Homo sapiens: one gene and its partners. The protein of the gene in region 3 purifies or fractionates together with the protein of the main gene of each other region. This does not show direct contact. Each region holds a gene or a part of one and is shown on either strand. Other genes may lie near its edges.

What was found.
Region 1: the proteins of RAB11FIP1 (region 3) and RAB11FIP2 purify together in Homo sapiens (affinity purification with western blotting, with the first as the bait; one study listed by BioGRID). This does not show direct contact.
Region 2: the proteins of RAB11FIP1 (region 3) and NOTCH2 purify together in Homo sapiens (affinity purification with western blotting, with the first as the bait; one study listed by BioGRID). This does not show direct contact.

The regions. Positions count from the first base shown.
Region 1 is NC_000010.11:118,006,532-118,008,951, reverse strand, and holds part of RAB11FIP2 (rab11 family-interacting protein 2), read left to right. Parts: 3' UTR 1-2,420. UniProt on the Homo sapiens protein: A Rab11 effector binding preferentially phosphatidylinositol 3,4,5-trisphosphate (PtdInsP3) and phosphatidic acid (PA) and acting in the regulation of the transport of vesicles from the endosomal recycling compartment (ERC) to the plasma membrane.
Region 2 is NC_000001.11:119,919,569-119,923,225, forward strand, and holds part of NOTCH2 (neurogenic locus notch homolog protein 2 isoform 1 preproprotein), read right to left. Parts: intron 3,211-3,657; coding exon 3,068-3,210; intron 2,879-3,067; coding exon 2,668-2,878; intron 2,242-2,667; coding exon 2,145-2,241; intron 830-2,144; coding exon 661-829; intron 46-660; coding exon 1-45. UniProt on the Homo sapiens protein: Functions as a receptor for membrane-bound ligands Jagged-1 (JAG1), Jagged-2 (JAG2) and Delta-1 (DLL1) to regulate cell-fate determination.
Region 3 is NC_000008.11:37,875,375-37,879,031, forward strand, and holds part of RAB11FIP1 (rab11 family-interacting protein 1), read right to left. Parts: intron 2,178-3,657; coding exon 1,735-2,177; intron 1-1,734. UniProt on the Homo sapiens protein: A Rab11 effector protein involved in the endosomal recycling process. Also involved in controlling membrane trafficking along the phagocytic pathway and in phagocytosis. Interaction with RAB14 may function in the process of neurite formation.

The DNA of each region.
Region 1 (2,420 bases), on a different chromosome or scaffold from region 3:
AAAGAAGGAAGGAAGGAAAAACTTGTTACTGAAAGAGACTACACTATCAGGTTTCATTACATATTCTCCTTTATTGTGAAGAGTAGTTTTACCTGTAAATATTAGCAGGGACTATCAAGAGTGACCTTTGAAGCAAGCTAAATCATTTAAATGTTTAAATTGAAAATGGGCCAGATTCTCAATGAATAAGTGGTTCCTTAGGACTCACTCAGGTGCTGGTACTGACCCACTAATCTGCCATAGGCCCAGAAATATCTTCAGAAGTACGTGAGTTGTTCCTCAGGAATAGATTTTTCATAAAGCAGAATTGATCCTGTGGCTGGTTTCTCAGAAATCAGTTTGTAGAAATATTTAGCTTCAGGAATACTGCTCGTTATAAACACTACTAAAAAAACAGTTTATATTTTATATACACATATGTACATGAATATATATATATTCATGTATCTTGTATATAAAATATAGGCATATACCTCATATATACATGTGTTTTTAGAACATTTAGAAACAATTGATTGCCTCTAAAGTTAGGCTACCAATTTCTTGATTTGAAAATGTGTGTGCTCTATTGATGCAAGACAAGTCATCCTTCCTACTGTCATGGTTTGTTATAGAGAAGCTGCTTCAAATCACTCTTGACTACATGGACCTTGGTTTCAAAGTGAGCTGCTATATATTATTCTAGCATCAAAGTTTTTCTCTTTCCCCAAAAGTGATGATCTCAAGTCCTTTTTTAAAGAATGACAAATTTTAGGAGACTTCATTAACTTCATAACAGCATGAATTTATTTGAATTAATTAACATTTGAGTTTGTTTAAGGTATAAGCAGAAGATAAGCTAATATAGCTTGTTTTGTTGAAATTCTGCATGCCTTTAAATCACTAGCAAAGCAAATATTATAAAGTTATATCTGAAAATAATTGTGGGAAGTATGTGATTGCCTGGTGTGTCTGATAACCCAAAGCAGCGGGCAGATTCCAGGAATGAAGAATTAGGCTTGGTTTCAGGTTACATAAATAATAGAGCAGATGGTTGCCTTTGGGTCTTGAACCAAAATAAGACTTACTAAAGGAAGAGTGAGTTTTTAGAAGAGAACTTTACGAGCGTGACATTATGCATTACTCCACATCCACCCTTTAAGAATTGATTTATTACAAAATTATGTTCTATTTTAAAGTCCACTCCCCCAAAATACTGATTTCTTCCATGGATTATTTTTATATGATTTGTACAAATTTTTTCTGAAATTTAAATTGACAAGCAATGTTATAAAAATATTGCTAATCTTCTGCTTATTTTTCAGCCTTTAAAGTCTGAAATACTATAAAACACTGAGAGTATCTATGTCTTTCTGAATTTAAAATGAAAATTCATGTCCATATGGAGACTTACATATTCCCCAATCTTTCCATGAATTGCATTTTTTTCTAATACTTATCTCTGTTAAGACTCCATTGAAAGTTAAACAAAAAGCCGATATAATAGTTTGGGTTTTTTTTTTTTGCTTATTTTAGTATTTTGAATCAGAGAATACTTGGCCAAGCTCGTATTTGTAAACTAAAACCCCTTGTTATTTGTATCTTCTGCATTTCAGTTTTACTGTAAGAACATACATTTTGAAATTATGAACATTTTTTTCATAAAAATTAAATGCTTTAAGAAATGGAGAAGGAAAAATAGCTTTTATCAATTTTTTTCTCCTCAAGATTCTGTAATAAACCTCAAAGTCTGGTGTAGAATGGTATTTTCCCGTTTGAGGTCTTGGTAGTTTTTTTTTTTTTTTTAAACATGGTGCCACTTTTAATTAACTAAATGTTACAAAATTCTCAGCATTTGTTTTTGTCTGGTAGTATTATTGAGTCTTTTCATACACTTCTTAAAATGTGAAAATCTATGTTTTCAGTATTATGACAGTATCTGCAGATACTATAATAATATGCTTTGGCCAAATTTGCTGTTTATAGAGTGAACCAAGATGTCAGTTTTGTATTGGGGATATGTTTTACATAAATAGAACTCATTTAAAAGTATGGTTCAAGTACTGCTCTTCTTTTTATGGGGAAATTGATTTTTAAGGAGCGATTCTTTTCCTATATAAAAGCTATTGAGGCTTAGCTTTATTCATACATGAGTGATTTGGTTATAACTCAATCAAAATTTTTATCTTTAAATCTGAGACAAGTATTATATTTAAAACTAGATCTATTAATACATTCATCACTGCCTGAAAATTTGCTGTTCTAATGTTTGTGAATTTTCACTCATTACCTAGAGTAAACTTATTGCATATTTTCATAATCAGTCAAAATAATAAAACTAAAAACAAAAAGTAAAAATTAGTTCCCAAGTAAATATATCAGTGTTTCCTGTGTTTGGGCAGAAGTGCAAAGTAGTTTTAATTTCTCACGTTGTAGAAAAA
Region 2 (3,657 bases), on a different chromosome or scaffold from region 3:
AGCTGCCTCCTCGGAGAGAAGCCAACATCAATGGGGTGCAGCCATCTGTAGGAATGGAAAATTCCATAAAGTACTCAAGAAGGAGAAGGTAGTTAACCCTATGGTTGAAACAGCTCTATTTGACTAAAGTTATTCTTAGGGGCAAAGAATTCCCTGTACTTCTTGTAGTAACTGGTTATTAGTTTCACATTTGCCACCTTTTCCTCTGATAGTATCATTTCTGTAAAGAATAATGGGAAAGTACAAGTCTTTTTAAGCTGGGGGCTCTTCTCTAAACACGTTTTTCTGTTCAAGTTTAAGTGCTGTTATTTTAATTGGACATTTAAAAATATCTAATATTAATAGAACAATTAATACATGCATAAGATACTAACTATCCTCTGCTTTGGGATATTATTTTTCTATCCCACTACAATCTAACCCATTTTATCAGCCTGTTTAGTCTCAACACACTGTACATGAAGCAATGTGAAATCCTTCCCTTTCTGAGCTGATAATTTCTTTGTGGCTACATTCCTTAAGCATTCATTTCCTCGAGCTGATTTAGAGTCTGTGAAATTGGGAAGGGGTTTATGACTGGACAGGGCAAACACAGGGACAACAATGTGGAACCATGGGCAGACACAGCCCAGTGAAGAGGGGAAGAGGCCCGGTGCTGACCTGGGCCACGGACATTCACATCTAACACATCCACCTCCTGCTCTGCCTGAGGAGGGGTGAGAGCCAGCGATGGTGTCCTACGGATGTCTGCAGCTTCAAGGTGCTGCTGTGTCCATGGCCGTCGATCAATGGGGTCATCTTCTTCTGAGAGTAAGGCCTCATCTTCAGCCTGAAAGGTGAAAACAATGCTCCCTATCAATCTGGCCACCACCAGAAACTGCTAATCAGAAGGTGTCCAGAGCCTCCACCACCGCTGCTTATCTCCCATTGTTTTCTCTCTTCCTACTCCTCCACCCCTCCAGAGGATTACCTCAGCCTTGGCTTCCCACTGCTCTCGTGATGTGGCTCCTGCTTACCTTTCCTGCATCATCTAGACAACTCCCTCCCCCAATCCCAAACTCTAGGCTTTAGCCTTTAGATCTCCAGAGCACCCAATTCTCACTTTTCCTACCCTCCACTAGAAAGTAAACTTTAATTCTTCTTGTTGGCCCTAAAAAGCATACTCTGCTTACCTCTGCTTAACTGATCATGTGTTAAATGCTTACACAGCACTACATGGCCATCTCCACCACAAGGCTGTAAGCTTCTCAAGAAGGGAAAATAAGCCTTGTTCAAGGTTGTTTCCTTGTACTCAACATAGCACCCAACATGTAGTAAGCACTCAGGAAAGACTATTCAATAATAATAATCATGATAATTTAAAAGCAGCTACCCTTTACTGAATACCTAGTACATGACAGGAAAGTAGATAAGGCACATATGCCAACACAACAACTCACAGAGGAAAGGGTTATTATTATCCGCATTTTACAAGGAAGGATAATTACAAAGAGGTTAAGTAACTTGCCAGCTACTAAGCGGCAGAGTTTTGGATTTGAATCCAGTTCTGATATTAACTAAAGCAATCTTCTTAACCATCATGCTCCACCAGCTCCCAGCCATGCACAGCTGTGGATGGATGGTCTGCTTTTTCATGTCAGTCTCAGCCCAATCTACCACTTGCTTTTATATGGCTTTAGTTTCCTGGGCTCAAGGTATGGAGCCTCCAATGTCAACGTTTTGCCATGATCACTGGCTTTCATTTTGCCAATGTCAATGATAACTGGCTTTCTTCCACTGCTTAATTTCATCTTCTCTTATAGAAGAAGTGCCCATAAAGGATAAGGAAGAGATGTGGCCATGAAGGAATTGCCATCTACACACACCATTCCTGACTTGACTACTGCCAGCATAACACTAAAGGAAACAGATGTGCTTAGTATTTTTAAAGAGTTATTCTTGAAGAGCATATATAGGTAACCCAAGGTCATTTACGTCCTAAGGATTCCTGCTGTTTAGGAGAACCTAGGATAGTTATTGTCTGGGTAAGACATCAAGACTATCACTCTTTACTCCCATTCAGGACACTCTGGAGCTAAAGGACAGAAATTTGAAATGTAACCAGATAATGGCTGACAATGGTGGTTCTACCATGGCCACCTCACCTTTACTTTCTTTGGCTGGGGCCCTTCATCATCGACCCAGTGTTCACTTGTTCCAGTACCAATTAGGTTAGCTTCTGAGACTTGCACTGAGAGATTTCTAATATGATTATAAAAAGAAAAAATAAGAATGGCAGTCATAAACTAATACAGTGGTTTTCAACACTTTCCACCATGACACACTCCCGTGGCTATATTACAATTTTGCAGGGTCTTGGCCCAGAGAAGATGGGCAGTATTTTTGGTGACATTCCCTTGGCATTCATCCTTTCCCTTCCCATTGATCGTGAGCTTACAACAAAAGGGCACCTCAACACAGAAGCTGGGCGGCATTGTGATAATATACACAGAATAGATGCACCCACGCTCTGACTGTGGTTTCAGTCACTCACAAGGCATTTAGAATCATGGTCAATGTGAGTAAATGCCCAGAGCTTAGAATTTAAAATCATGATTCAACAAGATATGCTTTTCTAGTCATCCCTACTTATACTGTGAATAGTGGCTTATTGGCAATGCCTCTTACTTCAGCCCCACAGCATCCTGTCCCACTGGCTCACGACGCTTGTGATTGCTTGCATCTCGGCGAAGAGTGAAACCTTCAGGCAGCCAGAGAGAGCCATGCTTACGCTTTCGTTTTGCCATGATTACCCCCAGCAGAATAATAAACAGAATGATGACAACAGCAACAGCAAGGAGATAGAGGAGCTGAGTGCGTTCTGGAGTCAGGGATTCACCTGAAAGTCCACAGAGACAGGGAAAGTGCTGAATAAAACATTAACCTCTCAATGTCAGCATTAGATTCATTTAGAGGGCAACTTTGACCTCAACAGTCCTGAAAAAATAGAGGGCTACATAATGAAAATTGTTCCCCCAATTGACACTCTTCCCCCGCCACCTTTCCCCTTTACACCAGTGCCACTCACTGACGACAGACACAAGAGGGTATGACAGGGTCCCCTGTATGGCGTGAGAGGCCAGGAGAGCTGCTGCTGCATCCGTGTTCTTGAAGCAGTGGTCTGAGTCTTGAACACACTGGCGGTTGTCAATTTCCAGAAAGACTTTAGAGCTGTGGGATGCCAAGGGAGAAGCGGAGGAGGAGAGATGGGGGTAAAACAGAAGAGTGCAGGTCAGGCAGAACATGTCATAAAGGGTGACAGGAGCCTCCCTTCCTCCCCTTCAGCATCAGGTCCCCACCTCTGGGATGCTGCCTTAAGACATATCTCAGGAATTAGAATACTGTCCCTTGAGATCTTAAACACTAATTCCCACATAGAGGATGTCCCACCTTCCTTAGTCTGGCTGACCAAAGCCTTCTGGCTGAGGCAATGCATGACAAAGTGAGAAGCTGTGCTTTCCTCCCGAAGGTTTCAGTGGTCTTCTTCCACTCTTTCATACCTACTCAGTGGTACTTGGTGCTACTCTAAACATACATCCCTGTGTGTTTTTAGTCCTTATTTTCCTTTGTCTCTGCATTGGTATCTCAGCTAGCTGGAGGGTTGAAAGTTTGACAATA
Region 3 (3,657 bases):
CAGTGTAGGGGCATCTGTCAACGTCTGGATACATTTCTGGTTGCCACAACTTGGAGGGGGTGTGCTGCTATTCGTATCCAGCAGGTAGAGGACAAGGATGATACTGAACATCTTACAACGTATAGCACAGCCCCCCACGACAAAGGCCTGTCTAGTCTAAACTGTCCACAGTGCTGAGGTTGAGAAACTCTGGGTTAAACCAATGAAAAGGGCAGCACTCTTGGTAGAGTAGCAGAATCCGGCCAATGGGAGGGATTTAGACATTGAAATTGAAGTTCAAAATACATAATTAACTCAGAGCTAAAGGAAGCAGATTCCTTGGCTTCTGATAAGGCTATATCCCACGAGGGTTGAGCACATCACAGGAACTCAATAACTACCTGATGAATTAATGAAATATCAGAATTACCATAAGGTTCCATGGTTTTACCCTTAAAAAAAAGAAAAAAAAAACTTGGAAGACACTCATTCTGTTAGCTCTAAAAGCTTGTACTAGTGGACATCATTTATAGAGCCAGGAACTCTGGAAAAGGAATTTATACATTCTTAGAAACCAGAGGGTATAATCCCAGCACTTTGGGAGGCCAAGGCAGGTGGATCACTTGAGGTCAGGAGTTCAAAACCAGCCTGGTCAACATGGTGAAACCCCAACTCTACTAAAAATACAAAAATTCACCGGGTGTGGTGGCACGGACCTGGAATCCCAGCTATTCGGGAGACTGAGGAAGGAGAATTGCTTAAACCCAGGAGGCGGAAGTTGCAAAGAGCCAAGATCGCACCATTGCACTCCAGCCTGGGTGACAGAGCAAGACTCCATCTCAAAAGAAAAGAAAAGAAAGAAAGGAAGGAAGGAAGGAAGGAAGGAAGGAAGGAAGGAAGGAAGGAAGGAAGAAAGAAGGAAAGAAACCAGAGGGCTTAGAAATAGAGAGGGCATCTCAGCCATGGGCAATGGTTCACACCGGTCATAAGAGCCCTTTGAGAGGCTGAGGCAGGAGGATCACTTGAAGCCAGGAGTTTCAGACCAGCCTGGGCAACATAGTGAGACCTCATCTCTAAAAAAAAAATTTTTTTTAATTAATCAGGTGTGATGATGCACACCTGTAGTCCCAGCTCCTCAGAAGGCCAAGGTGAGAGGATTCCTTGAGCCCAGGAGTTGGAGGCTGCCGTAAGCTATGATCGCGCCACTGCACTCCAGCGTGGGCAATAGAGCAAGACCCTGTCTCTAAAACAAACAAACAAAAAATATTTTAAAAAAAGAAACAGAGAGGGCATTTTTTTTTTTTTGAGACAGAGTCTCACTCTGTCACCCAGGCTGGAGTGCAGTGGCACGATCACAGCTTACTGCAGCCTCTACTTCCTGAGCTCAAGCAATCCTCCCAGCCTAGCCTCCTGAGTAGCTGGGACTACAGGAGTATGTCATCACATCTGGCTAATTTTTATATTTTTTGTAGAGACAGGGTTTCACCATGTTGCCCAGGCTGGTCTCAAACTCCTGGGCTCAAGCAATCTGCCTGCCTCAGCCTCCCAAAGTGCTGGGATTACAGGCGTGAGCCACCACGCCTAGCCTTAGAGAGGGCATCTTAACCACCGCTATCATCATCCCCACCACCATGATTTTGTAATTGAGGAATTGAATTAAACTCTTTCTCTTGAGATTTGTCTGTTTCTTCTCTCTCAGAACGAAGCATGGTAAGAGGAAGAAGAGAGGTCAAGCAGGAAGAGGCAGAAACTCACCATCCGAGGCCGAGGAGGACTCATCCTCATTGTCATCTTCATCCCACTGGGACTGAAAGTCTCCGGGACGAAGCAGCACTTTTTCTGGCTTTGAAGTCGGCAGGACAGACATGGACTGGGAAAGAGGCGTCTTCTGCAAATTTGACTTGGAAAGTAAGGTCTTGATCTTTGATTTCTTTTTCTTGTCTTTAACCACAGACTCATCATCACTGTCGACCGAAGGTGTCGTGCTAGGGATGATGGCGGAGGCGGTGTCTGACCCACTGTCCTTATTCTTCCCCTTGATCTTGTCCTTCAGCTTTCCAAATGGATTCCGAGACTTGTCTTTCATAGAAAGGTCAAACATGCTGGCAGTCATGTTGTTTCTCATAAACTGGATGTCAACCTCAATTTCTCCTCGCTCCTTGTCCTTCTTTCCTGGTTTGGATTTCAACTTATACCACCTGAAAGGAGAAAGGCTGAGGAGTTACCTTTGAATGGAAGCAACTGCAACAATGTTCACAATCCCCATGAACTGGCCTCTCCTCTCTGCTACCAGCAGCCTCTTCAATGCATGCATTCTCATGCTTTCTCTTCGGGAAGTGGTAGATGAGAGCAGAATTTTTTTTTTTTTTTTTTTTTTTTTTTTTGACACAGAGTCTTGCTCTGTCACCCAGGCTGGAGTGCAATGCCACCATCTCGGCTCACTGCAGCCTCTGCCTCCTGGGTTCAAGTGATTCTCCTGCCTCAGCCTCCTGAGTAGCTGAGATTACAGGAGCGCGTGACCATGTCCAGCTAATTTTTGTATTTTTAGTAGAGATGGGGTTTCACCATGGTAGCCAGGCTGGACTCGAACTCCTGACCTCAGATGATCCGCCCGCCTCAGCCTCCCAAAATGTTGGGATTACAGGCGTGAGCCACTGCACCCGGCTGAGAGCAGAATTTGCACTTTTATTTCTTTTGTTTTGTTTTTTATTTTGCACTTTTATTTTTGAGAAGACACGCGCTAGACAAAGATAGGATCCAGTGTTGTGCTTAGCGTATAATCACCTCAAATCCTGATTCAATAAAGAGCTCATTCTAAAAATAAAGAAAAAAAAATATTCCATGGAATCACTTCCGATGAGTGATGTTTTCCTTCAGTAGGGTAAAAATGTAAAGATCAGGGCAGGTGCGGTGGCTCACACCTGTAATCCCAGCACTTTGGGAGGCTGAGGTGGGTGGATCACAAGGTCAGGAGTTCGAGACCAGCCTGGCCAATATGGTGAAACCCCATCTCTACTAAAAATATAAAAAATTAGCCGGGTGTGGTGGCAGGCGCCTGTGGTCCCAGCTACTCAGGAGACCGTGGCAGGAGAATCACTTGAACCCAGGAGGCAGACGTTGCAGTGAGCCGAGATCGCACCACTGCACTCCAGCCTGGACAACAGAGTGAGACTCCATCTCAAAAAAAAAAAAAAAAAAAAAAAGCAAAGATCATACACAAACAGTTAAGAAGGGTGGCGTGCAAATGATGTATAATTAAATCTCAGAGAAAATCAAGTTTGTAGTAAGGAATGGTCCCTGCCAGGGAGTAAAAAAATAATAATAATACAACACAGAATTAAAAAAAAAAAAAAAGTGGGGAGGGGGTTGGGCATGGTGGCTCACACCTGTAATCCCAGAGATTTGGGAGCCTGAGGCAGGAGGATCACTTGAGGCCAGGAGTTCAAGACCAGCCTGGGCAATATTGCGAGACTCCATCTCCATAAAAAATTAAAAAATTTGCCGGCATGGTGGTGTGCGCCTATACTCTCAGCTACTCAACATGAGCCTAGGAATTCGAGGCTGCAGTGAGCTATAATTGCACCACTGCACTCTAGTCTGGGTGACAAAGTGAGACTCTGTTTCTAAAAATAAATAAATAAAAATAAAGAATTTTTTAAAAGAGTGAAATCAGGCTAG